Homo sapiens: one gene and its partners. The protein of the gene in region 4 purifies or fractionates together with the protein of the main gene of each other region. This does not show direct contact. Each region holds a gene or a part of one and is shown on either strand. Other genes may lie near its edges.

Evidence for each region.
Region 1: the proteins of DKK3 (region 4) and MYO5C purify together in Homo sapiens (affinity purification with mass spectrometry; 2 studies listed by BioGRID and IntAct, with this or other methods). This does not show direct contact.
Region 2: the proteins of DKK3 (region 4) and SLC25A16 purify together in Homo sapiens (affinity purification with mass spectrometry; 2 studies listed by BioGRID and IntAct, with this or other methods). This does not show direct contact.
Region 3: the proteins of DKK3 (region 4) and CEP131 purify together in Homo sapiens (affinity purification with mass spectrometry; 2 studies listed by BioGRID and IntAct, with this or other methods). This does not show direct contact.
Region 5: the proteins of DKK3 (region 4) and MYO5B purify together in Homo sapiens (affinity purification with mass spectrometry; 2 studies listed by BioGRID and IntAct, with this or other methods). This does not show direct contact.
Region 6: the proteins of DKK3 (region 4) and MYO5A purify together in Homo sapiens (co-immunoprecipitation; 3 studies listed by BioGRID and IntAct, with this or other methods). This does not show direct contact.
Region 7: the proteins of DKK3 (region 4) and MYO1D purify together in Homo sapiens (affinity purification with mass spectrometry; 2 studies listed by BioGRID and IntAct, with this or other methods). This does not show direct contact.

Annotation. Positions count from the first base shown.
Region 1 is NC_000015.10:52,247,305-52,250,804, reverse strand, and holds part of MYO5C (unconventional myosin-Vc), read left to right. Parts: intron 1-2,021; coding exon 2,022-2,105; intron 2,106-3,212; coding exon 3,213-3,347; intron 3,348-3,500. UniProt on the Homo sapiens protein: May be involved in transferrin trafficking. Likely to power actin-based membrane trafficking in many physiologically crucial tissues.
Region 2 is NC_000010.11:68,524,724-68,528,655, forward strand, and holds the start of SLC25A16 (solute carrier family 25 member 16), read right to left. Parts: upstream 2,801-3,932; 5' UTR 2,653-2,800; coding exon 2,523-2,652; intron 1-2,522. UniProt on the Homo sapiens protein: May be involved in the transport of coenzyme A in the mitochondrial matrix. Very little is known about the physiological function of this carrier.
Region 3 is NC_000017.11:81,189,096-81,191,965, reverse strand, and holds the end of CEP131 (centrosomal protein of 131 kDa), read left to right. Parts: intron 1-615; coding exon of another isoform or gene 616-630; coding exon 631-773; intron 774-881; coding exon 882-1,059; intron 1,060-1,163; coding exon 1,164-1,327; intron 1,328-1,990; coding exon 1,991-2,051; coding exon of another isoform or gene 2,052-2,122; coding exon 2,123-2,197; 3' UTR 2,198-2,370; downstream 2,371-2,870. UniProt on the Homo sapiens protein: Component of centriolar satellites contributing to the building of a complex and dynamic network required to regulate cilia/flagellum formation.
Region 4 is NC_000011.10:11,967,127-11,970,626, reverse strand, and holds part of DKK3 (dickkopf-related protein 3 isoform 1 precursor), read left to right. Parts: intron 1-2,139; coding exon 2,140-2,232; intron 2,233-3,500. UniProt on the Homo sapiens protein: Antagonizes canonical Wnt signaling by inhibiting LRP5/6 interaction with Wnt and by forming a ternary complex with the transmembrane protein KREMEN that promotes internalization of LRP5/6.
Region 5 is NC_000018.10:50,188,648-50,192,147, reverse strand, and holds part of MYO5B (unconventional myosin-Vb), read left to right. Parts: intron 1-3,500. UniProt on the Homo sapiens protein: May be involved in vesicular trafficking via its association with the CART complex. The CART complex is necessary for efficient transferrin receptor recycling but not for EGFR degradation.
Region 6 is NC_000015.10:52,518,881-52,522,380, reverse strand, and holds part of MYO5A (unconventional myosin-Va), read left to right. Parts: intron 1-3,500. UniProt on the Homo sapiens protein: Processive actin-based motor that can move in large steps approximating the 36-nm pseudo-repeat of the actin filament. Can hydrolyze ATP in the presence of actin, which is essential for its function as a motor protein. Involved in melanosome transport.
Region 7 is NC_000017.11:32,870,625-32,874,124, reverse strand, and holds part of MYO1D (unconventional myosin-Id), read left to right. Parts: intron 1-3,500. UniProt on the Homo sapiens protein: Unconventional myosin that functions as actin-based motor protein with ATPase activity. Plays a role in endosomal protein trafficking, and especially in the transfer of cargo proteins from early to recycling endosomes.

The DNA of each region.
Region 1 (3,500 bases), on a different chromosome or scaffold from region 4:
CATTCTTATTTGTTTTCCTTCCTTAAGGGAGCTCCTACCTCCTCCCATGTCCTGGTTGGGTGTTGCCTTGGTGGCCTAGCCCAGTGCCAGGGCTCACAGGAATGGCTTGTGCTTGTCTATGTTTATCGCAGAGGCCGGTGCTGTGAGTCAGAGCTGGTCATTCCCGAGTGACTGATGGTGGAGGGAGGGGACAGCAACCTGGAAAGCTGTGATCACCTTTGTGTGCTAGCAGAGTACTGTAAAATATTAAAATATAGGATTGGCCGGGTGCAGTGGCTCACACCTGTAATCCCAGCACTTTGGGAGGCTGAGGCGGGTGGATCGCTTGAGACCAGGAGTTTGAGACCAGCCTGGCCAACATGGCGAAACCCCATCTTTACTAAAAAATACAAAAATAAGCCAGGCGTGGTGGCACGCACCTGTAATCCCAGCTACTCAGGTGGCTGAGGCAGGAAAATTGCTGGAACCTGGGAGGCGGAGGTTGCATTGAGCCAAGATCACGCCACTGCACTCCAGCCTGGCTGACAGAGTGAGACCCTGTCTCAAAAAAAAAAAAGAAAAAGAAAAAGAAAAAAAAAAGATAAGTTTTTAGTGCTTAGACTTTTTCAGATGGGCTCCTGAAAAGATGCCTATGAAATGAAATGATCATATGTCAAATTATATTTCCTAGCTATTGTCATAATTTCAGGGTTCTGGTCCCATAGGAAAAGGGAGGGGGAAAGACCAGACTCCATAAAAAGCACATATGGGATTTCTTTCAAGGGTCTCTCTTTATAGGATGTAGTTTCTGGACATGTAATTCTCTCACCTGCCACTTCCAAGAAGTCTCCCTTAAAAGAACTAGGCAGCGTTTGGGCTGGACTATGGATTGATTGGTGGGAAGAACCCACATGCACTATGGGGTTAGATTAGGTTTTCAATCTCATTGGCCAGGGAAATCAGGTCGTATTGAATGCAAGTCAGCTGAGCTTAGATGTAGCAGCTCAGCACATCTTCCTTTGGTCCCAGAGTCCCCAACAGAGGCACCAGCTGCATGTGACACTGTCCCCACAGATGCTCGCCCAGACCAGGAAAGCTCTGTATTTGCCACCTTTGTCTATCTGTCCTAGTGGCTCACACCACCATTCTGGAAGAATTTGTACAACAATCCAGGTACTTCATTCACAAAGAAGTGTTTGCAAACAGCCGGTGTTCCTGGATCTTAACCTACCTACCGGCAAGGATACTTCCTTACCTGGGGGACAAAGCAGAGGCCATGCCCAGGGAACCCTCTGCTTACGGATTCCAGCACTCTCCCCTGTTTCCTCATTGTCAATTTTTAAAATTAATTTTAATATACGTTTTTAATTTATGAAAAATAAATTATCACATATTAAGATATGCAATCCAGAGGCATAAACTAGGGGGAGGTTGAATGTTGAAGCAGCCACCCTGGATATGCCATGGTTTGAGGCATTCGAGAAGCCTTCTTCATCAGAAAGGGCAGCATGGAGAGTTTTTCTAAGCTAGATTCAAGCAGTGCAAAGGTTGACCCACTCTAAACCTGATTCTGAGGGCTTGGTGGCTCTTGAAGGCTTGGTGGTCAGCTGGTCGGTTTTTCTATCCTTTCTACCACATTAATGTTGATTTAGGAAACGATGTCTGTTTGAACCCAATGAACACCACTAAGCTTTTTCCTCCTCCTGGTGGCTTCAAAGGCAAAGGGAGACCTAAGTCAGGTGTTCTTGTAGGAACTGCACATACCGCAGGGAGCAACTGGACCCCTGTGGCCAGAGGGAGCCAACAGGTGAGTGCAGAGTGATCAGCAGGCAGGTGAGAAACCCAGGTGGTGGGAGAGAAGACACATTCCCAGCTTATACATAATGGGGCTGCTGCCATGATGCACAGAAGCCAGACGTCTTTTTGTAAGATTGCCTCTGTAGCCTTTTTTATTAATCTTTCTTAAAAAAGAGATGAAACTTGTGCTTAGAGGCTATATTCTTTGGCCTCTTTGGGAATAATTAATTGCTTTCTCTGTATAGGTAGAGTATAAATGTGAAGGTTTCCTGGAGAAAAACAGAGACACCGTCTATGACATGCTGGTTGAAATCCTGAGAGCAAGCAAGGTCTGTAAAGTCCTAGGGGTAACTAAAGTTATTATATAATTGACATGGATCTAGATGTATATAAGGAAAGAGTAAGGAGAGAGAGAGAGAGAGTGTGTGTGTGTGTGTGTGTGAACTCTCTGGACAGTGGTAAGTTGTAGCTCACAGATTCAAAAAGATAACTACTGTAAATCTCTACTATATGCAAAATCAGAAATCAAACATGCAGATGACAGGAAGGACAGCTAATAGAACCATTGAAGAATCACAATTCCAGCCAGACGTGGTGGCTCACGCCTGTAATCCCCGCATTTTGGGAGGCAGAGGCGGGTGGATTGCTTGAGGCCAGAAGTTTGAGACCAGCCTGGCCAAAAAAGCAAGACCCTGTCTCTTCTAAAAATATAAAAAAACATTAGCAGGGAATGGTGACATGCCTGTAGTCCCAGCTACTTGGGAGGCTGAGGTGGGGAAGACTGCTTGGCCCTGGGAGATAGAGGCTGCAGTGAGCCATGATTGCGCCACTGCACTCTTCTTCTGGGCAGCAGAGCAAGACCCTGTCTCAAAACAAAACAAAACAAAACAAAATATGAAATTCACTCTGAGAGAAGATAAGACATTTAAAGAAATAACTGATACAAAGCAGAAGGTAGTAAGTGCTTTAAATGAGGTACAAATACAAGATGAAGACGGTTCAGAGAAGTTGGGATTAATTCATTCATTGCGAAGTGGGTGGGGCTGGAAAACATTTTAAGAGATTCCTGGGTAGGGTTTGGATCTGCAGGGATGAGAATGTGGAGTAGGAGGGAGGAGATTGCAGGTGGAGACACAGTGTGAGCCAGGCACGGAGGTGAGAATAGTAGATGTTTCCACTTTCTGACACTTAGAGTGATACCCACATACAGACATTTACACACTTTTCTTCTCTGTTCCCCTTCTCGGGAAAGAAGTCACGGGCCATCCCTATGAAAGACGATCGTCTTGTGGAATTGAGATTTGGCTGTAGATGTTGGTGAGGTTGTTCACCGCCCACTAGTTTAGCTGAGTTGTTGTCACCATTTACGTGGCTTGTATGAGTGAGTACTGTGGGCAGTTGCTTTTGGACATTGAGATCCTCTCTGTTCCTTCCAGTTTCATCTCTGTGCCAACTTTTTTCAAGAAAATCCAACTCCTCCTTCTCCTTTTGGTTCAATGATTACAGTTAAATCTGCAAAGCAAGTCATCAAGCCAAACAGCAAGCATTTCCGGACCACAGTTGGGAGCAAGGTACTGAGAAGGTGTTTGAGAGTGAGGGGTCTAAAGGCAGGGCCAGGCCCTGGGGAGCCAGGGCACTCAGAGGACCCGCATTCCAGGCCTGGACATGGACAGACGCTGGGGCTCTTCCAATCTAACATGGACTCCACTGCAAAAAGTTCATCG
Region 2 (3,932 bases), on a different chromosome or scaffold from region 4:
AAAAATTAACTGGGCATGGTGGTGCACGCCTGTAATCCCAGCTACTTGGGAGGCAGAAGCAGGTAAATCACTTGAACCCGGATACGGAGGTTGCAGTGAGCAGAGATCGTGCCGCTGCACTCCAGCCTGGCCGACAGAGTGAGACTCCATCTCAAAAAAGAAAAAGAAAAAAAATTAGCCAGGCATGGTGGCATTCCCCTGTAATCCCAGCTACTTGGGAAGCTGGGTCAGCAGAATCACTTGAACCCAGGAAGCAGAGGTTGCAGTGAGCCAAGATCACGCCACTGCACTCCTGCCTGGGTGAGGGAGTGAGACTCTGTCTCAAAACAACAACAACAACAAAAAAAACTTAATACTGCTGCAGTCTTCAGATATTATCTTTCTACAAATCCTCATAATGTGAGGTTTTTTTTGTTTTATTTTATTTTGTTTTTGAGATGGAGTGTCTCTGTCACCCAGACTGGAGTGCAATGGCAGGATCTCGGCTCACTGCAACCTCCACAGTGATTTAGGCGACTCTCCTGCCTTAAGCCTCCTGAGTAGCTGGGATTACAGGCGAGTGCCACCACGCCTGACAAATTTTTGTAGTTTTAGTAGAGACAGGGTTTCACCATGTTGGCCAGGCTGGTCTCAAACTCCTGACTTCAAGTGATCTGCCCACCTTAGTCTCCCAAAGTGCTGGGATTACAGGCGTGAGCCACCCTGCCCAGCGAATTTTTATTGTTTGTTTTTGTTTTTTTCTTCTTTTAGGAGAGGGTCTCTCTCTGTAGCTCAGGCTGGAGGGTAGTGGTGTGATCATGGCTTACTGGAGCCTCGATCTCCTGGACTCAAGCAGTCTTCCTGCCTCAGCTTCCCTAGTAACTGGGACTACAGTAGTGAGCCACTGCACACAACTTCAATGTGGAATTTTTAAATTTTTGAATCTTAAATAATTAAGTAATGACAACCTGTGGGGAAAAGCAAGAGAGATCAGATTGTTACTGTGTCTGTGTAGAAAGAAGTAGACATAGGAGACTCCATTTTGTTCTGTACTAAGAAAAATTCTTCTGCCTTGAGATTCTGTTAATCTATAACCTTACCCCCAACCCCGTGCTCTCTGAAACATGTGCTGTGTCACAGAGTTGAATGGATTAAGGGCGGTGCAAGATGTGCTTTGTTAAACAGATGCTTGAAGGCAGCATGCTCCTTAAGAGTCATCACCACTCCCTAATCTCAAGTACCCAGGGACACAAAAACTGCGGAAGGCCGCAGGGACCTCTGCCTAGGAAAGCCAGGTATTGTCCAAGGTTTCTCCCCATGTGATAGTCTGAAATACGGCCTCGTGGGAAGGGAAAGACCTGAACGTCCCCCAGCCCGACACCCGTAAAGGGTCTGTGCTGAGGAGGATTAGTATAAGAGGAAGGCATGCCTCTTGCAGTTGAGACAAGAGGAAGGCATCTGTCTCCTGCCTGTCCCTGGGCAATGGAATGTCTCGGTATAAAACGCGATTGTATGCTCCATCTACTGAGATAGGGAAAAACCGCCTTAGGGCTGGAGGTGGGACCTGCGGGCAGCAATACTGCTTTGTAAAGCATTGAGATGTTTATGTGTATGCATATCTAAGAGCACAGCACTTAATCCTTTACATTGTCTATGACGCAAAGACCTTTGTTCACGTGTTTGTCTGCTGACCCTCTCCCCACAATTGTCTTGTGACCCTGACACATCCCCCTCTTCGAGAAACACCCACAAATGATCAATAAATACTAAGGGAACTCAGAGGCTGGCGGGATCCTCCATATGCTGAACGCTGGTTCCCCGGGTCCCCTTATTTCTGTCTCTATACTTTGTCTCTGTGTCTTTTTCTTTCCTAAGTCTCTCGTTCCACCTTACGAGAAACACCCACAGGTGTGGAGGGGCAACCCACCCCTACACAACCCAGAGAAGTAATTAAGGAAGGGTGGAGCTTGAAGGCCCAGGAAATTCCTAAGAGACAATATGAACTTTTTGATCCCAAAGTCACATCAATAATAGGGCTTGTCAAGTACTGTGTCACAGTTTACTAGAATCACTGGAACCAGTTTTGGCTGTAGACAGTTTGCACAATTTTCCAGTAGTCATTAAAAAGCTGATCTCCAATATTTGTTTTCCTTTAAGCAAACAGCAAAATCCAAGTCTACACTGGGTCACTCACGGTTTTTATAAAAGAAAGGAGTGCCCAGCATGTCTCACTAAAACCCCAGGGTCTCTGTAAGGGATCCTCCTCTTTTCCCTGTTATCCAGCCCTGAAGAATGGGTGCCTGATTCAGACCTTCCACCTCCCCAGCCTCTGCCGGAGTGCCAAAGGTCCCACTCCCCATAACCTAGCTGTCATTAGTCAAGTGATTACTAGAAAGAGGTTACAGCAGGTCAGGGCAGACATCTAACAGAACATTGAAGCAGCCAGAGTCCAGGAATGTCATAGAGGCCGCTTGCATCCCACTTGCCCACAGTCCTGCCCCCGCCACTCAGAGCGCGGCTGGCTCTTCGTGGCATGGACCCACCTCCGGCCAGAAAGGAGCGCAGCCAGTAGAAGTCTCTGCGGGTTGTGGGCCCTCCGGCCCCTGCCGCCTGCGGCATTGCGGGAGGGGGATCGGCCGCCGCCAGGGCTGCCGCGGCCGTCGCCGCCGCCATCAGGACCAGGGTCGCGTCAGGAGCCTAGGTTGCCAACTTACAGAACACCGGACGGGACCATAGCCGGAACAGGCGGTGACAGGAGGCTGACCGCCCCGCCGGCGGGGCAAAGTAACACCCGGCGGCGCGGCGCCGGCTGATGGCGTACAGCAAGGGCGGGGCCTGTGTCACGCGCCAAGGGGCTCTGCCGGGAGGGGCGGGGCCAGGACGCGGAACAGGGCGTCACCCAGGCTCGTAAACTCCTCCATCCCGCCTCACCCGGCGTTGCCACTGTCAGTTCACTGCTCAGGCCCCTTCTGTTCGGACGGAAAAAGGAAACGGTAGGCAGTGAGATGGTCCCATTAAAACCCACAACCTGGCCGGGCGCGGTGGCTCACGCCTGTAATCCCAGCACTTTGGGAGGCCCAGGCGGACGGATCACTTGAGGTCAGGAGTTCAAGACTAGCCTGGATGCCGGGCGCCGTGGCTCACGCCTATAATCCCAGCCCTTTGGGAGGCTGAGGCGGGCGGATCACAAAGTCAGGAGTTCGAGACCAGCCTGGCCAATATGGTGAAACCCCGTCTCTACTAAAAATACAGAAATTAGCCGGGCGGGGTGGCGGGCACCTGTAGTCCCAGCTACTCGAGAGGCTGAAGTAGGAGAATCACTTGAATCCAGGAGGCAGAGGTTGCAGTGAGCTGAGATAGCGCCACTGCACTCTAGCCTGGGTGACAGAGTGAGACTCCGTCTAAAAAAAAAAAAGACTAGCCAGGCGAACATGGTGAAACCCCGTCTCTACTAAAAATACAAAAAATTAGCCAGGCGTGAGGGCGGGCGCCTGTAATCCCAGCTACTGGGGAGGCTGAGGCAGGAGAATTGGTTGAACCCAGGAGGCGGAGATTGCAGTGAGCCTAGATCGCACCATTGCACTCCAGCCTGGGCGACACAGCGAGACTACGCCTCAAAAAAATAAAAAATAAAAAGGCCCACAACCTTAGAAAGCTCTCTCCTGTCTCGTCCCTTGACCTATATTGACCACTGACCAGTAATCGCCTATCGCGCTTTTTTTTTTTTTTTTTTTGAGACGGAGTCTCGTTCTGTTGCCCAGGCTGGAGTGCAGTGGCGAGATCTCTGCTCACTGCAACCTCCACCCCCTGGGTTCAAGCAATTCTCCTGCCTCAGCCTCCCTAGTAGGTGGGATTATAGGCGTGCAATACTACCCCTGGTTACTTTTTGTATTTTTAGTAGAGACGGGGTTTCCAACGTATTGGTCAAGGCTGGTCCGAACTGCTGACCTCAT
Region 3 (2,870 bases), on a different chromosome or scaffold from region 4:
AGCCTCTGGGGCCTTCTGTGGGGGGTGGACTCTGCCACGGTGACAGTCCCACACACATTCTCACCACCCATGCCCGCCGCGAGGCTACAGTCCAGGCTGACCGTGCCCGTCACCTGGTTTCACACCCTGGTGGGCTGGGATGTCACCGAGCAGCCAGGCAGGCTTTGGCAGTGGATGCCTCTGGGCCCAGTAGCATGCTCCCGACGTAGCCCTGTGGGGCCCAGGGCTGGACAGATGAAACTCTGGGAGTTTTCAGAGGCTTCCAGGAGGCTGCCAGCTTAGGCTCTGAATGCCTGGGCTTGGGGGCCCAGGCCCCGCCCTCAGCAACACGCAAGTCCAACTTTCCCATCCCATCTGGTAGCAGAAGGTGGCCTCAGGTTGTCATGGGCTGTGGGTCTCTGAGGGAGGGGACCGTGGGCTGTGCATCATGACGATCTCTGGTACGCCTATGCCCACACTGGGTCCTGACAACAGGACGTAGCGCACCCCTGGACAGGGGTCTGGAGAGGGGGAAGGCCCCTTGCTCCCCTGTGGCTCAGAGCCTGGAGCCCCCCAGGACCCCCTGAGGCTGGCCCTGGCCCCGCGGGCCGGCTCCGGGTGGCAACCCCCAGGCAGCGCATGTCCCCCCAGGAGGCGTGGCTGCTGAACCGGGAACAGGAGCTGAGGGAAGAAATCCGGAAAGGCCGGGACAAGGAGATTGAGCTGGTCATTCACCGGCTGGAGGCCGACATGGCGCTGGCCAAGGAGGAGAGTGAGAAGGCTGCCGAGAGCCGGTAAGGACCCGCCATGGCTGGGTCACCAGCTGGGGAGGCCCACGAGCTGAGGCGCAAGGACCCGTGTGTGACTGGGCTGGAGTGACCCTGCCCTCCCCCCACCTCCAGCATCAAGCGCTTACGGGACAAGTACGAGGCCGAGCTCTCCGAGCTGGAGCAGTCGGAGCGGAAGCTTCAGGAGCGGTGCTCGGAGCTGAAGGGCCAGCTTGGGGAGGCCGAGGGCGAGAATCTGCGTCTGCAGGGCCTTGTGCGGCAGAAGGAGCGGGCGCTGGAGGATGCGCAGGCGGTGAGTGGGCGGGTGTCAGGTGGGCAGTGGGCACCCACAGGCCCCTCCTGCATGCACGCAGCCAGTCGCTGGCAGCCGGCTCACTGCCTTCTGTGCCCACCCAGGTGAACGAGCAGCTTTCTAGCGAGCGCAGCAACCTGGCCCAGGTGATCCGCCAGGAGTTCGAGGACCGGCTGGCAGCCTCTGAGGAGGAGACGCGGCAGGCCAAGGCCGAGCTGGCCACGCTGCAGGCCCGCCAGCAGCTGGAGCTGGAGGAGGTGCACCGGAGGTGGGCGGCGGGGGCTGCAGGGCTGGAGACGGAGGCGGGGCAGGGGAGCGGGCAGGACCTCTGCAGCTCCAAGCCCCAGGAGGCTGTGGCTGAGGAAGGCCAGGAGATGCAGAGACAGGGCCCTGTAGACAGAGGCTGGTGTGGGTTCCATGTTTGGGGCCCAGGAGACCTAGATCTGTTTTCCTCCCTGGTGCTTAGTCTAGGGTGTCGGCCATCCCTGTTGGGGCACCCGAGTGGGTCGGGTCTGGGCCTGGCGAGTTCTCCAGGGAGTCAGCTCCCGGGGCCCTGGGCTGGGTGGACAGGCGCTGAAAGAGCTGGGGCACTGTAAGGTTCCCAGCGAGCTCCCTCCACGGGGGTCCTGCATCCTTCCTGTGCCATCTGCTGCCACAGGCTGAGAGGTGGGTGTGGGCGAGGTGTCCCACCCCATCTGGGTACCAGGCCTCCCCAGGTGTGGCCAGGGTCATACTCCAGTGGCCTGTGTTGGGTCCTGACTCACAGCAGGTGGGTTGCCTGGACAGCTGTCTGGGCCAGCCACAGGAGTCGTGGTCAGCAGGGCTGGGACCAGGCTGACCAGGCGGCTGCCCCGTGCACCCTGTGCACTGCAGGCCACTCTGGGGACATGGGGCGGGGGCCACACTGAAGCCTACCATGTACTACCCACAGGGTGAAGACAGCCCTCGCGAGGAAGGAGGAGGCCGTGAGCAGCCTCCGGACACAACATGAGGTGAGTCCCTGTGGCCAGCCCTGCTGGACCTCGGGGCTGGGAGCAGGCCTGACCCTGTGGGTGTGCTGCAGGCTGCGGTGAAGCGGGCCGACCACCTGGAGGAGCTGCTGGAGCAGCACAGGAGGCCCACGCCAAGTACCAAGTGACCAGGGATGCCGGGAACACTGTCGAAGAACGGAAGGCAGAGGACAGAGGCTGGACGTGGGCCCAGAGGCCCACAGGGACGCCCACCTGCCCCCCACAGAGGCTGGTGGTTGAGATGCCCACGGCTAAGCACCTGTGGCTGCATTTTAACAGTAAAGGAGGCCGTTGTTTTCAGCGCCTTGAGTGACTGCCTTGTCTTCTCTCCTGGGCTAGAGGCTGCCCAAGACCCCCAGAGCAGCCAGGCGTGGGTTTGGCTCTCTTCCTCCCACTCCCCTCCGCAGCCTGAGCAGGCTGACCAGGAAATCACGAAGCTTGGCCATCAGCCCCCCAGCTAGCAGCCCTCAACACTCAGCCAGCAGCCCCCAGCACTCAGCCAGCAGCCCCCCTGCACTCAGCCCTCAGCTCCCCAGCATTCAACCCAACCCCCAAGTTCCTGTTCCCTGCCTTGCCCTGGACCCTGGAAGTCCCAAGCACAGGGAATTCCCTACCCCGTTCCTGGCCAGGCGCAGGAGGAACTCAGCAGAACTCACCCCCTGGGAGGAGCTCCGAGGGCCCCGCCGTGGCCCTGCAGGTGCTGGAAGCCCATGGCTGCCAGCGTGCTCCTATGGCTGGAGAGACTCCAGAGGGACAGGAAGCCCTACCCTCCCCGCTGTCAAGGTGTGACAGTCTGGAGCT
Region 4 (3,500 bases):
CAGAGTGCGCTCCCTACCTTCAGGTCAGCTGATTAGCAACCTGCATTCCCTCTGCCTCTAATTTCCCCTTCCTATGTAATATAACATACCCACAGGTTCCGGGGAATAGGATGTGAACATCTTTGGGGGTGCTGTTATTCCACCCACCATGGAGACATTCAACCTTTCTAATTTCTTCCATTCTAAGTGAAAAAAATGGTGTTATGCTCTTTTAAGTTGCATTTCTTGATTGATTTCATTGGTGAGGTTGAACGCCTTTCTATTTGAAGAGGCAAATTTCTGTTATTCTAAGTTGTCCGTTCATACCCTTTGTCTCCTTTGCCACTGGGTTGCTCTTTCTCTCTCTCTTTTTCCAATTGAATTACGAATTTCTTAAGGGCAGAGGCCTCCTCACATTCACCTTTGTGTCCCCAGTCCCTCAAAATATGGCTGGTTCAGAGAAGGGATTCTGTGCCTGTTGGCCCTTCCTTTCTCCCAAATGTCGTCCCTCCCACTCCATTTTCTTGCCATTCTGCTTTGGAAAGAACGTCGGGAGGCTTCCGGCTGAGCAGCCTGAGTTGTGTCTGTGCACAAGAGCGTGTGCTGGGCTGAGACAAAGCGCGTCTGTGATTTGTTCCCAGCCCTGTTGGGACTTCTCTGGCCGCTGGGGCTCTGGCTCAGACTCAGTCCCTTCACTTGGGCGGCCGTTCACCCTACTCGGAGCCTCGGTTTTCTTATCCGTAAAAACAGCGATGGTATCATGCCTGACATTTAAGGGGTGCTGGGAAAGTAACTGAAACAAAAGCATCAATGCTTGGCAAGGGAGCACCCTGGTTGCTGGGCCGCCAGCACTTGCAGTGTTGATCAGAGCAGCAGAGCCCCTGGAAGGGGACTGGAGGCAGCTGCCGGAGGTCCAGGCCTGCCCGGCCAGGCTCTTCCAGGTGGGGCTCCACACCTGCATTCAGGATGGGGAGGATGCTCTGGGTCAGAGGGGAGAGCCGGTCCTTCCCTTCCTCAAGACCCTTCCAGAAGGTCTGCTGGGCCCCAGAATACCAGGCCTCAGGAGGGTCCTTCTCACCACTGGCTGCTACATGTGGAGCCCTGAACCCCCTTGGCTCAAGGGCTGGTGGTGGAAAGAGACCCTCCACCCTGAACTAGTCACATTATCTTGGAGGGACCTCTCTGCCTCCATTTCCCGGCTGGCAATATAGAGAAGGCAGTCCCTACCTGCCTCCTGCTGGGAGGAGTCACTGAACAAGATCAGGGCCGTCAAGCCTGATACCTCAAAAGGGCGATCAATGGCCATTCCTGTCATCATGTTCCCTCCTCCCCTGCCCTCCTTCCCCTGCTGTAAAGCTGCCGGTTCGTAGGCCTGAGCCTGACAGCAGGTCCAGGAGCTGAAGCAGCCCTGCTTCTGCCAGTGACCGGCGACCATGGCAGGTCACAGTGCCCTCGGCCATGGCTCCCTGTTCTGTGACTCAGGCCTTGGGGTGGACAGATTCCCCTCACTCCTTCTCTCCCTGTTTCTCCAGCCAGGCAGAGCTGGCAGCCATGAGGAGACAGCACCTGGGCTGGGAGGGCTGGAGTCCAGCCACCCTCCTCTAATTCATTTCCAAGCTGGCAGCTGCCTTTCCCTCTTGCAGGGACCCTAGACCCAGGACCCTGAGGGCGCTCTCTGTGGGCAGGGCTGTGGCTTTCTGGCAGGGTCCCTAGCGATGCCCCCTCTGCTGCCTCCCAGTCTTCACAGTCAGCAGAGCCCTTGGGGCCTGTCTTCCAGCCTTTCCTGTGCAGTCGGGCGGGCCTGGACCTCATTAGCACTTTTTATTAAATCCATATGTTCTGTGTGGAAGACCAGCCCTGAGTCCCTGTGCTCCCGCCCTGGGTGTGGGTGGGGGAGAACTGTGCACAGATGGCGATTGTGTGAATTTGGTGTGGGATCCTCCAGGCTCTGGGCTGCCAAGCCTCCTAGGCATGGAGATGCTGAAGGGCAGTGCAGCCAGGCAGGGATCAGGAGCGACTAGAGTCTGGAGGCCTTTCCTGACCCTGCTGAGCCTGTGGGGTCAAGAATGGGGAATGGAAGCGGGCCTGGCCCTTCCTGGGCACTGTGGGCCTGCTGCTCTGCTCTCCATTGACACATCTGCTCCCTGTGCCCTTCCCCAGGAGTGCATCATCGACGAGGACTGTGGGCCCAGCATGTACTGCCAGTTTGCCAGCTTCCAGTACACCTGCCAGCCATGCCGGGGCCAGAGGATGGTGAGTATGCCAGGGCCTCTGGGGCTGTGGCACCAGGGTCTCAGGCACCTGGGGGAGAAAGCCAGGGGCCCCAGCGTTCTCAGCTGGGCTTCCCAGAAGAGCCTCACCATGATGGGGAGGACCCAAGAGGGCTCCCCAGAGGGCTGACTCCTGGAGGACAAGGAACTCATTCCAGTTTGGGATGACAGGAAGCCATCTGCAGACCCAGGGCCACTCCCATCCACCCCATGTCCTCTGGTCATGTTGTTTGTGTCATTGATGGTAGAGAAGGGGAGGGACGGCCAGGCACCGTGGCTACACCTGTAATCCCAGCACTTTGGGGAGACCAAGGCAGAAGGATCTATTGAGGCCGGGAGTTCGAGAAGGGGAGGGAAGGGAGAGGAGGTGTCCCTACACCTGTTGCTTCCCCTGGGGATGACCCATCCTAATAGACAAACAGAGACATTCCGGCAGCCCCCAGGCAGGGAGAGCGGCAGCTGCTCTCCTTCTGGACCTGCACCCCACCCACCAGATCTTTCTCCAATCTGCCAATAAGAGAGGGCAGAGGGACAGGGCAAGAAGAGGCCAGGGCACTGCCCCAGTGCAGGTTAGATTGGGAAATGTGGAGCCAGGGCAAAGGAGACTCTTCACCCAACAGGCATTTTGGACGAAGCCACATGGACTCACAGACTTTTCATAGTCATTTTTCCTTATTCAGACAATAACACAGCATGCTAATAAGCTTGGAAAGTCAAGCAGTTCTTATTACCTTACCCGACTGTCTGTGGTGAGGCCACTGCTGTTGCACCTCGCAGCCAACCCCACTCGGTACCGTCACTGGGCACAGCCGTGGGGACCTCACTTTGCTCTCTAACTGCCATGCCCTGTGTGGCTGCAGGACCCTGGCACCCACAGGCCATCCTCATCTTGGGCTGGCTTGGGCCTTAGTTTAATCGGCTCATCATTGGGCCTTGCCTCTTTGGGCCTGGACCTAGGGACCTAAGGAAAAAGGGAACAGCACAAGTCTGTGGGGACCACAAAGACCCCCTGCTGTTCTTTGCAAAATCTTAAGCTGTGGAGAAAGACTCAGATCCATGAGTCCTCCCGGTGCCATTTTTCCAGCGTTCTGACCCCCATGTCTCGCCAGCCAAGCTCCCACCTCTGTCCCACTGACTTTCACTGAAATCTCAGCCTGGTCTGCCTGTCTCTACAATGGGAGGATGCAGGTTGGCCTATCTGTGGTATCTTCAGGCTGGGCTCTCAGCAGGCCCCCAGTCCCTAAGCCGCTG
Region 5 (3,500 bases), on a different chromosome or scaffold from region 4:
GTTGGCTATTGTTTCTACCATTGTCAGCCCTCTTCAATTAGGGCACAAACAAGCTACATTTTTTTTTTTTTTCTCTCAAATGGGTGTGGATGGTCTGCTGGTACAGGCTTCATCTTTGACATCGCTTCGTCCCTTCTTCAAATGAATTATCCACTTAAAAACTGATTGTCCCCATAAACTTTTCATAAAGTCATGATTTCACAATTCTTCTCTCCACACTTCGTCATAAATTTGATGTTTGGTCTTGCTTCAATTTTAGTAGAATTCATGTTGCCCTGATAGGGGCTTCTTTTCAAACTGATGACTTAACTTTCTTAGTGCCTCAAACTAGACCCTGTTCTAGATCCCATTCATACTTGTTATAACAAGTATAAAACTATGGGTTTGTTTTGGTGCAGAAAACTCTGAAATCCATGTGAATTTTTTTCCATGATATGCATTTTCCATGACCTTGAAATAGTGCTCATATGAGGCTAATGGACAATTGAATAAACCCTTAATCTTCGGAGCCCTAGTTTTGAAGAACAAGAATTAATATCGGATTGCTTTTAAAGACAATACTTGTAGGAGAAAACACTCAATTTGATTTTTAGTTAGAAATGAATACATTGCATGTTAATTCTTAGGAATGATGAAGTAGTGGGAGTCTGAACTTGGGTTTCAGTGTACTTTTTCTCAGGTTATGGAGATGTACAAAACTGGTGTCACCAGAGAAAGGTCTTGGATATAAGACACTTAAAAAGTAGCTTCATTGGTGTGAGGGGTTGGCATAATTAATCCCAAACAAATATTAGAGTTCTTCCCTAAGGGCTGCTGGGCTGCACCTTGCTCTGTTAATGGGTTTCCAGTTCTTAATCATTTAGGGTCTTGATTATGAAATTAAGGAGATTTTCTGGGACCCAAGACAGTATCTTCTAGATTTATGTTTTGAGCAGTTGTTATTCTTCCTGGCAATTAACACACTTGTGCTTTACTATGAGAAGCAGTTGTGTAGTTGCCTAACCATGGTCTCCCCACTTGCCAAGCTGGCTTCTCAGTATGCATGTGAATCATAAGTTACACAGGGAAGTCGTGCCTGCTACTCAGATTCACTTTGTTTCTTAGAGATTATTCATTTTAGTGTATTATCAAAATAGCCAATGTTCCCTTTTATTTTTAACTTGCTAGTGGGCTTTCCTAATGTGATGAACACTGGAGCCAGACACACACATCAATGTATTATGTATGATGGAAATAATTACCCATTATGCTAACAGCATTTATACATTTTTGGGAATGGAAAATTTAAAGCCCTTTGATTATACCTGTTGCTTTTGTGATAGTTAGAAGATGTTATTATTGGAATATGAAACATTTAAATATATATTAGCTTGTATTAAATACTGTTCAGTAAGAAATTAGTGTATTTCTAGTTATCTAAGAAAATAGTTTCTTTTTCCCTCCATCCAATTAAATGTGTTCTTGCTCTTCTTGATCTGTTCCCTTCAAGTGGCAGTTTATATGTTATGTGATTTTTTTTTGGTAGGTCGGGGGCCAAAGGGCACTTCTCTTTGAACAGAGACACTCCTGTTCTCAGAAGACCCAACACCTCACCTTTGAGAAATTGTTTTCTTTGTAGTGAGGTTTTTCTGGATGGAGAAAGAGCACCAGTCAGTGCCAGACACTTTCAGGGTGATGTCAAAGTGAGTCAGTCTCATTCACTCTCACATCAGCTCCAAAGGTGGAGCTGATGATGGTCTCTGTTGTCACAGTGGCATGCATGTGGTCAGTGTGAGTGCTTGGCTTCCAACCCATTGGAAAAGACAATGTGGGCTTTGCTTTGCATAGATCCAGAAAGAAGCCCACACATGTGCAAGCATGGTGAATACCATTTCATCATGATGATTGCAGATAGTAGTCTGATTTTAAAGCATAAAATGTAACCTCTCCTTCTCAGGCTGAATAATACAACTCTTATCTATAGAAGAGTTACTTGGAACAAAAAATTTAAATACTGCTATTTCAAATACCTGGATTTTCAATATGCTACTTTGATTCTAGCCAGCAGAGTGAATGAGAAATCATCAAATTGAAACTGGTGCCTTGAAACCAGTGCCTTCAAATAACCTTTTTTCCTGCTTGGCTTCTAATTGATAGGTAGTGTCTGAGCAGTGGGTTTTTGAGTGCTGCTGGGAGGTTACTTTACTGGCAGACACACCATATGTATGGCAGCTTTGCACCCAGGAGCCTTTACTAAGGGCGCGATTTGGGACCAATCATTTGAAAAATAGATCTTCTGTGCTTTTGGGCAGGTGTCCTTTAACAGTCCCTTACCTATACCTCAGGTAATGTAAGTTTCTCCCAAGTGTCAGTCTGAAGGCAGCAAGAGCCACCTGTTTCCTCTGTACCCAGTCACCCCTGCTGGAGGGGCTGATGATTCCTTCTTTTGCTGGTGGCTCTGAGTGATGTTCTTTTTTCCAAAAAGTGGTGACAGTGTTAAAGACATGAGGACTTGAAAAGTGTCAGCAGATGCTGTTAGTGCTCCTATTGTTTCCCCCTTACTCCCTTCCCTGCATACTGCCTTGGTGTTAGCTCACTCCCAATAGCCAGCACCCATCTCTTTGTCAAAGCTCCTGAAGCTGTTTTGCCTGTGTGCATAGGGAGCCTGGGAATTGACACTCTGCAAAAGGGAACAGTCCTTAACCAATGGCACTGTAATGACATTAGTTTCCTATCTTGTCACCTTGAGAATGGAACAGCTCTAAAGTATGACCCATACTGTTTTCAGTTTCTTTGTACAGTTGAACTAAAGTTACCATGCTTGGGACTTTCCTTAGTATCACATGTTAGCTTGACTTCCTTCCCTCTCTTGTCCACCTTCTCTACTCCCCTACCAGTCTTTTCCGGAAAACACTGCCTTACAAGTCTCTTGAGCAGGAATCCTTGTCTCAGGATCAGATTCTAGGAGCCCAAGTTAACCATAACTCATGGTGGCTTAGCTTAGTGGATGTTGAGAATCTCAAGGGCTTTGGCCCCTCTATGGTCCCAGGAAAGGCTGAAAAGAAGCATGGAGGTTGTGTGTCATGCTGTCACTTTCCTTCTGAGGCTCATTCTCTGTCTTGCATGTGGTTTTTTTCTTCTCTCATCCCTAGTTCCAATTCCGTTGATCCTCTGCTCCCCGTTTTCAGATGGGCCTATAAGCCCAGTGGATCCTGCTTCACCATGTTGGCGATCATCAGAATTTTGAAGTTTGTACTTGTGACTTGTGGATGTGGCATATTCCAATGGCCTGTAACCTGTAATCATTGAGCAGGCTCTTGCCCTGCCCTCCTTTGTTGATAGGTGTGTGTGTTTTTTTTTTTTTTTTTTTTTTTTTTTTTTTTATGACAGAGTCTCACTGTGTCACCAGTCTAGAGTGCAGTGGAACGATCTCAGCTCACTGCAACCTCTGCCTCCTGGGTTCGAGTGATTCTGCGGCCTCAGCCTCCTGAGTATCTGGGACTACAGGTGTGTGCCACCAC
Region 6 (3,500 bases), on a different chromosome or scaffold from region 4:
ACCACCCCACTCCCAATCTTTCATCAACTTTATTGAGGTATAATATACTTGAAAAGTCCCTCATTTTAAGTGTACAGTTTGATGAGTTTTGACACATATATTCTGTCATGTAACCACCGCCACAAACAAGATGCAGAACATTTCCATCACCCCAAAAGTTCCCTTGTGCTTTGTCTCTTATCTTCCCCAACATCTTCAGGGAGTTTACTGGAGTTATGCTTGCTCATTAGGGCAGAAGGAAGTTTTTTCTTTTTGGTTTTTCCGAAATGAATGCTATGGTTCCACCTTAGCCCAACCAATAGAGATACTTATTACAAAGGCCTGGCATTGGAGATCATGGCTGTGGAGTTTCATTTTCAGTGGGAGGCGGAAGTGGATATAAAAGGAGTTTAGATGATTTTTGTTTAATCTTTCCTTCACACACTGACCACTTTGCCTTTATTAATGATGTCTGCCTTTGATGCCTTCTGAAATGCCCTTTGGTTAATTTTGCCCTTTAACGGTTCCTCTTCCCCATCTGTCTTGGTTGTAACATCAGTCTGAGTTTGTGCTGATACAACCTAAACTTTGCAGAAACTTATCCCTGGCTCTTCATGCCTCAGGCATTCTCCATTTCTCTTCTAAGCCCTCCTCACTTGGAATTCTTTTTAACTAGCAGGCATTAGCGTTAAATATCTCCTTGTACAGCAAAGGCTTTTTGCCAATTGTAGAACTTAGGGATGATGTAATTATTTTTTGATTTCAAAATAATGGTTCTAAACTTGATTGAAATCAAGGGAGAAGTGCATTGTACATAATGCACTAAGTGTTCATGAGGACCATGTATCTACCTCCTGTGGCCTAATGTACTACTGTGGCCAAAAATGTGGGCAAGATGCTGGGCTAGAGGGAGACTGGATGCACAAAAAAGATAGGTTTTGTCCATCTTTTGTCACATATACAAAAACATATAGTCCTGGCCAGGAATCCTGCATGTGTGGTTGGGGTTTCTACTTCTTGACAAATGTACATGAAACTAGAGAAATTTCAGAATAGGAGAAGTAAAATGATCAGGGCAGTGAAGAGGCTAGACAGATTAAAGGTGTCGAACTCTCTAGTTTAGAAAGATGAAGGTGAGCTGGGAATACAGTAGAGGTTTTTTTTTTTTTTTTTTGAGACAGAGTCTCGCTCTGTCACCCAGGCTGGAGTGCAGTGGCGTGATCTCAGCTCACTGCAACCTCTGCCTCCTGTGTTCAATCGATTCTTCTGCCTCAGCCTCCCGAGTAGCTGGGACTACAGGCATGTGCCACCACCCCTGGCTAATTTTTGTATTTTTAGTAGCGATGGGGTTTCACAGTACTGGCCAGGCGGGTCTCGAACTCCTGACCATGTGATACGCCTGCCTCGGCCTCCCAAAGTGCTGAGATTACTGGCGTGAACCACTGTGCCCAGCCCTATAGTAGACTCTTTGACATCCAGAATAGTGGAAGTTTGTAACATCAAATCTCAGTTTAGTAGGGATATGTTTTAGATCTTGAAACAAATCAATATATGCCATTTTAAATGAATTTCTACTTTAAACATTTACATTTTACATTTCTGAAACTCATCACTTCAAGTTATGGTATTAGCTGAGGTACAGGATGTAAATAGAGAGGGTCTGGGTAATTTATGGATGAGAGGTTTGGCACATTGACTTACCAAACCTCTCTTTAACAGTGTTAGTCAGTTTACCAGCCACAGCTGTTTTAGTTGGAAGAAACAGAAACCCAAACTCAAAGCCAAAGAGGAGTTTATTTGCTCATGTGACTTAAAAATCTAGGCATGGCTGGAATCAAGGCTCAGACATGGTCATTGGGGCTCTCTTCACTGACTCTCACATGCTGTCTGACATTGGTTTCATCCTGAGGGCAGCTTTTTTTAGGGGTGAAAAGATGGTCAGTGGCACCTGCAGATCACATGATCTTACAGCACTGGGCCTGGAGGAAGAGAGCCTGATAGAGGAATTCTGGTCATGTGCCTTCTCCTTTCATTGGGCCTCTAGGCAGTAGGTGAGGAGCACCATGAGTGGTCAAGTCTGTGCTCACCCCAGAGACCAGGGGGAGGACAGGGCACTGTGATTGATAGTCCTACTCCAACCTCATGGGATGGCTGTGAGCTGTTCGCCATTGGAAGGAAAAGTGCTAGGTAGTCAAAATAAACAACTACCCTCAGTCCATGTATGCTATGAATAGGTCACTGAAAATGATAGTCATGGAATTCTACCCCTCCTTTTCTGATCTTTGAGCAAGAAGAATGGGAAATTTTGCTTGACCGGGGACATTAGGTATCTTTCCCCTAGAGAATCATTTTGGATTGAAAAATAGAAGCCAGGCCAGGTGCGGTGGCTCATGCCTGTAATCCTCAGCACTTTGGGAGGCCAAGGCGGGCGGATCATGAGGTCAGGAGCTTGAGACCAGCTTGGCTAACACGGTGAAACCCTGTCTCTACTAAAAATACAAAAATTAGCCGGGCGTGGTGGCGTGTGCCTGTAATCCCAGCTACTCAGGAGGCCGAGGCAGGAGAATCGCTTGAACCCGGGAAGCAGAGGTTCCAGTGAGTTGAGATCGTGCCGGTGCACTCCAGCCTGGGCGACAAAGCAAGACTCTGTCTCAAAAAAAAAAGCCATGGAGCGTCTGTGCAAGCAAATGTTACTAATAGCATGTTAGAAATTGAAATTTTGAAAATTTATTCAGTCTTCAATTTTGATTTTTCATGTATTATTATTATTATTATTATTATTATTTTTTTTAGACAAGGTCTCGTTCTGTTGCCCACACTAGAGTGCAGTAGCGCAAGCATAGCTCACTGCAGCCTCGAACTCCTGGGCTCAAGCAGCCCTCCCAGCTCAGCCTCCTGAGTAACCGGGACTGTAAGCGCATGCCACCATGCCTGGCTAATTTTTTAATTTTTGTAGAGACAGAGTCTCACTTTGTTTCTCAGACTAGTCTCAAACTTTTGGCTTCAAGCAATCTCCCACTTAATTATCCCAAAAGTGCTGAGATTATAGGCGGGAGCTACCATGCCCGGCCATTATTCAGTCTTAATTTGGGGGCTATGAACCCTATGTCACCTTTCTTACTGATTTCTTTCTACCGTATTTCCTCAGCATTTTATTTCCCCTATTTTCTTCACATCCTTGCTTGCATACGTTATTCTCTTCCCCTATTTTCATACATAGATAAGTTGCACGATTTCTTATTGCACAACAGTAAGAATTGTGCACAATTTCTTTTTGCCTGTCCGTCATTCCTTGTTCATGTCTAGTGGTAGTCTGTCTTCTGTTCTCTTCCTTCCACCTGTTCATCTGCTTTATCCCCCTACTATTTAATTTTATCTACCCACCCCTTATGCCCTGTTATGATTTGTTATAACGAAGTATATATACATCCCACACCTATAATGGAATAAAATAAGTTACTAAAGGGTGAATCTTTTTTTCATAACTTAGATTGAGGAGGGAACTTCATTTTTGTTTTTGC
Region 7 (3,500 bases), on a different chromosome or scaffold from region 4:
TATAGAGGAAGAGAGGAGTTGAGCTGAGTTCCAAAGGATGGGTAGGATTTGTAAAGGTGGACTCGTGGCTGGAGAGCATTCCAGGTGGATTAAGCAGCATGAGCAGGGGTTGGCGGCATGAAAGCTGACTCTGGGTGACAGTGAATAAGTTAAGTTGTTTGGAAGGGAAGGGGTTGGTGTTGTGGAGAGGTGGGAGGAATCACCAGCTCTCCATATGGCCATTGGCTAAGGCCCAGGTTTTTAGGTCTACCTTTATACCCAATCTCCACATCATTCAAAATCCTGGGTGTACAGATGTATATGTATTTGTATGTATCTCATCTGTGTGTCCTTGATGACTCTGAGAACTGGCTGTGGTTCTCATTGTACAGATCAGTGATTGTTCATGACTTACTTATACATTAAAATAGTTGGTTCCCTGTAGCCATAAACACAGTGCCAGCAAAGGGTAGCACCCTTACCCTCCTCTGAAACTATAAATTCTGACCCAGACAGAAAACAGTCCTCTCTTTCCTTTCACTTTGCAGAAGGTGACCAGAAACCCACCACTGCGTAATCCAGGTGCTGTTCTGTGATGTTGAAGTGTTTTTGTCTCCTGGAATATTGGTGGTTGGGCACATATTTCTGGTTGTATATAGCTGAAATTGAGCGTGTTTGGTCCATTGGTATATATGGATGTGTGAGTGAAATTCCCATGTGTGCTTGTACCTCATGACTCCTGCCCTCCCAAGCTGTAGTTCCTGCTCTTACTCCCCAGTCTGGAATGTCCTGTCCTCCCTTCCCACCTGGCTCTTCTGCAAGGCCTGCTTCCTTCCTTTAAGTCATGTAATAGTCAAGCACTCAAGGCTGCAGGTGCTTCATGGGTCTGTGTTTTCTCAACAGCAGCACCTAGCATAATGCTGGGTACAGAGTACATTCCTTCATGACAACATTTTTTTGTAGAGAGGGAAAAATGCTTGTTACTTTTTTTTTTAAAAGCTTATGTGGCATTGTCCTTTTAGAATTATCTTCTTGTTTTGCTATTAATCTGGCCTTCTTTTTCCCTCTTGGAGCTAAAGCTTGATTTTTAGACAACTGCCACAATTGATGCAACTTTCTCCTACCATTTTTACTTTTAAAAATTGACCTAGGCCGGGCGCGGTGGCTCACGCCTGTAATCCCAGCACTTTGGGAGGCCGAGGCAGGTGGATCATGAGGTCAGGAGATCCAGACCATCCTGGCTAACAAGGTGAAACCCTGTCTCTACTAAAAATACAAAAAATTAGCCGGGCGCGGTGGCGGGCGCCTGTAGTCCCAGCTACTCGGGAGGCTGAGGCAGGAGAATGGCGTGAACCCGGGAAGCGGAGCTTGCAGTGAGCCGAGATTGCGCCACTGCAGTCCGCAGTCCGGCCTGGGTGACAGAGCGAGACTCCGTCTCAAAAAAAAAAAAAAAAATTGACCTAGATGTGTGTCTGGATGGGGCAAGAGTAAAAGAGTGATGTGGATTACTGCGAGTTAGGATATCTGAGAAGGAGCTTCAACTTATATTTCTTGCTTTATAACAAAACCTGCGGCCGGGCGCGGTGGCTCACGCCTGTAATCCCAGCACTTTGGGAGGCTGAGGCGGGCGGATCATGAGGTCAGGAGATCGAGACCATCCTGGCTAACACCGTGAAACTCTGTCTCTACTAAAAATACAAAAAAAATTAGCCAGGCGTGGTGGTGGGTGCCTGTGGTCCCAGCTACTTGGGAGGCTGAGGCAGGAGAATGGCGTGAACCTGGGAGGTGGAGCTGGCAGTGAGCCGAGATTGCGCCATTGCCCTCCAGCCTGGGTGACTGAGCAAGACTCCGTCTCAAAATAAATAAATAAATAAAACCTGCTTGTGTTCTAACAAAACCCTGGAATATCTGAGAAGGAGCTTCAATTTATATTCCTTGCTTTATAACAAAACCTGCTTGTATTGTGAGGGCTCCTTCTTTCCCTCCCAGAAGTCTCTTGTTGGGGGATATTTCTTTTGACTTTTTGGTGGAGATGGAGGTGGTGGTGATAAGTTCCTCATTCCAATTTCCAAGGGTCTCTGCTCAGGCGTAAGACCTCTGTATGAGTCCTGCCTGCTTCCATGGTCAGGAGCAGTTCCTGCCAGCAACCCTGATGACCACTTGAAGCCCTAACCACAACATCCCTGTCCTACCATGTTCTGCTTTCTCTGTAGCCACTTCCTTTTTGGATGTGGAGCTCATTGGTTCCTTTTCTCCTTACATGGGCCATTCCTATACGTGAGTTCTTCCAGCATTAACATCAGCTTTGCACCCTCCCTCTGAGAGTCCTGCCAGGGCAAGCTGCTTGCATCTGCTCCTCGGCGTGCTCCTTACTCCGCACACTCCTCACTCTCAGCCATGTGCGTGAAAGGAAGAATGCAGGCTACTGCTCAGGAGTGGACTTGAGCCACGGACGGTGTCCTTGACAGAAATGCTTTCCATTTTATAGGACAATGAAATATACGTTAGACTTCCAGAGGTCCAGTTTCTTAACTTTATTTGTTATTGGTTCCTGTTTTGAGAATAAAGCATCTATTCAGTCTGATATCTTGGCTTCTCAGAAATTTAATTTTTCACCCTCTCTTTTCTTACTGGGTTTTGTCTTCCATAAAAGCAATCATCTGAAGCACTGTGCATGCCAAAGCTCCATGCAACTTCTCTTTTTTAATCTAACACAGTATGTCTTTTGTACCTTTGCTTAGACCTGGGATTTTCAGCCTTGTCACTATTGACATTTTAGACATTTTAGACTTTGTTGTAGGGGCTGTCCTGTGTGTCGTAGGATGTTTAGAAGCATCCCTGGCCTCTACTCACTAGATGTCAACAACTCCACTCCTCTTTCATTTATGACAACCAAAAATGTCTCTAGACATTGCCACAAGTCCCTGGGGGGGTTGTGTGTGGGTGGGTGTCTTTGTGCTCACATGCATGCAATATTATCCCTAGCTGAGAGCCACTGGCTCTTGCTGTTTTCACCCCCTGGAATGTCCTCCTTTCCTCATCTCTGCCCTCATTCCCTGCCTGCCATACTCTTACTCATCCTTCAAGACCAGATGTGAGAAATCTTTCCCAATCCCCCAAAACAGGTCAATGTCACATTCTCATGTGCTCTCAGGATACATGGACATTTATTCATAACAGAGAATTTATCATATTCATATTCCTCACCAACCTATGGAATCCTCAAAGGCAGATAGCCTGTTCAGAGGTAGATCCAGGTTTTCTGGTGCTTTGAACCTCATAATGCTTGGGGGCAACCACCTTTAAGAAAAAGAATGTAAATCATGAATGCAGAATAAAATGCAAGGCTTTGGAAGGGGAAGGTGCAAGTGAGTGGCTGTGAAGCAAACCTACCTTTAATCCTTTTGCGTTTTCTGTGATGCTACAGAATTTGCCCTTCCCCATGTTTAATACATCTTAAAATGAATTAACTGAGTACTCAAATGTTGGCTGATTGGTCTTCAACCAATGGAATTATTTCT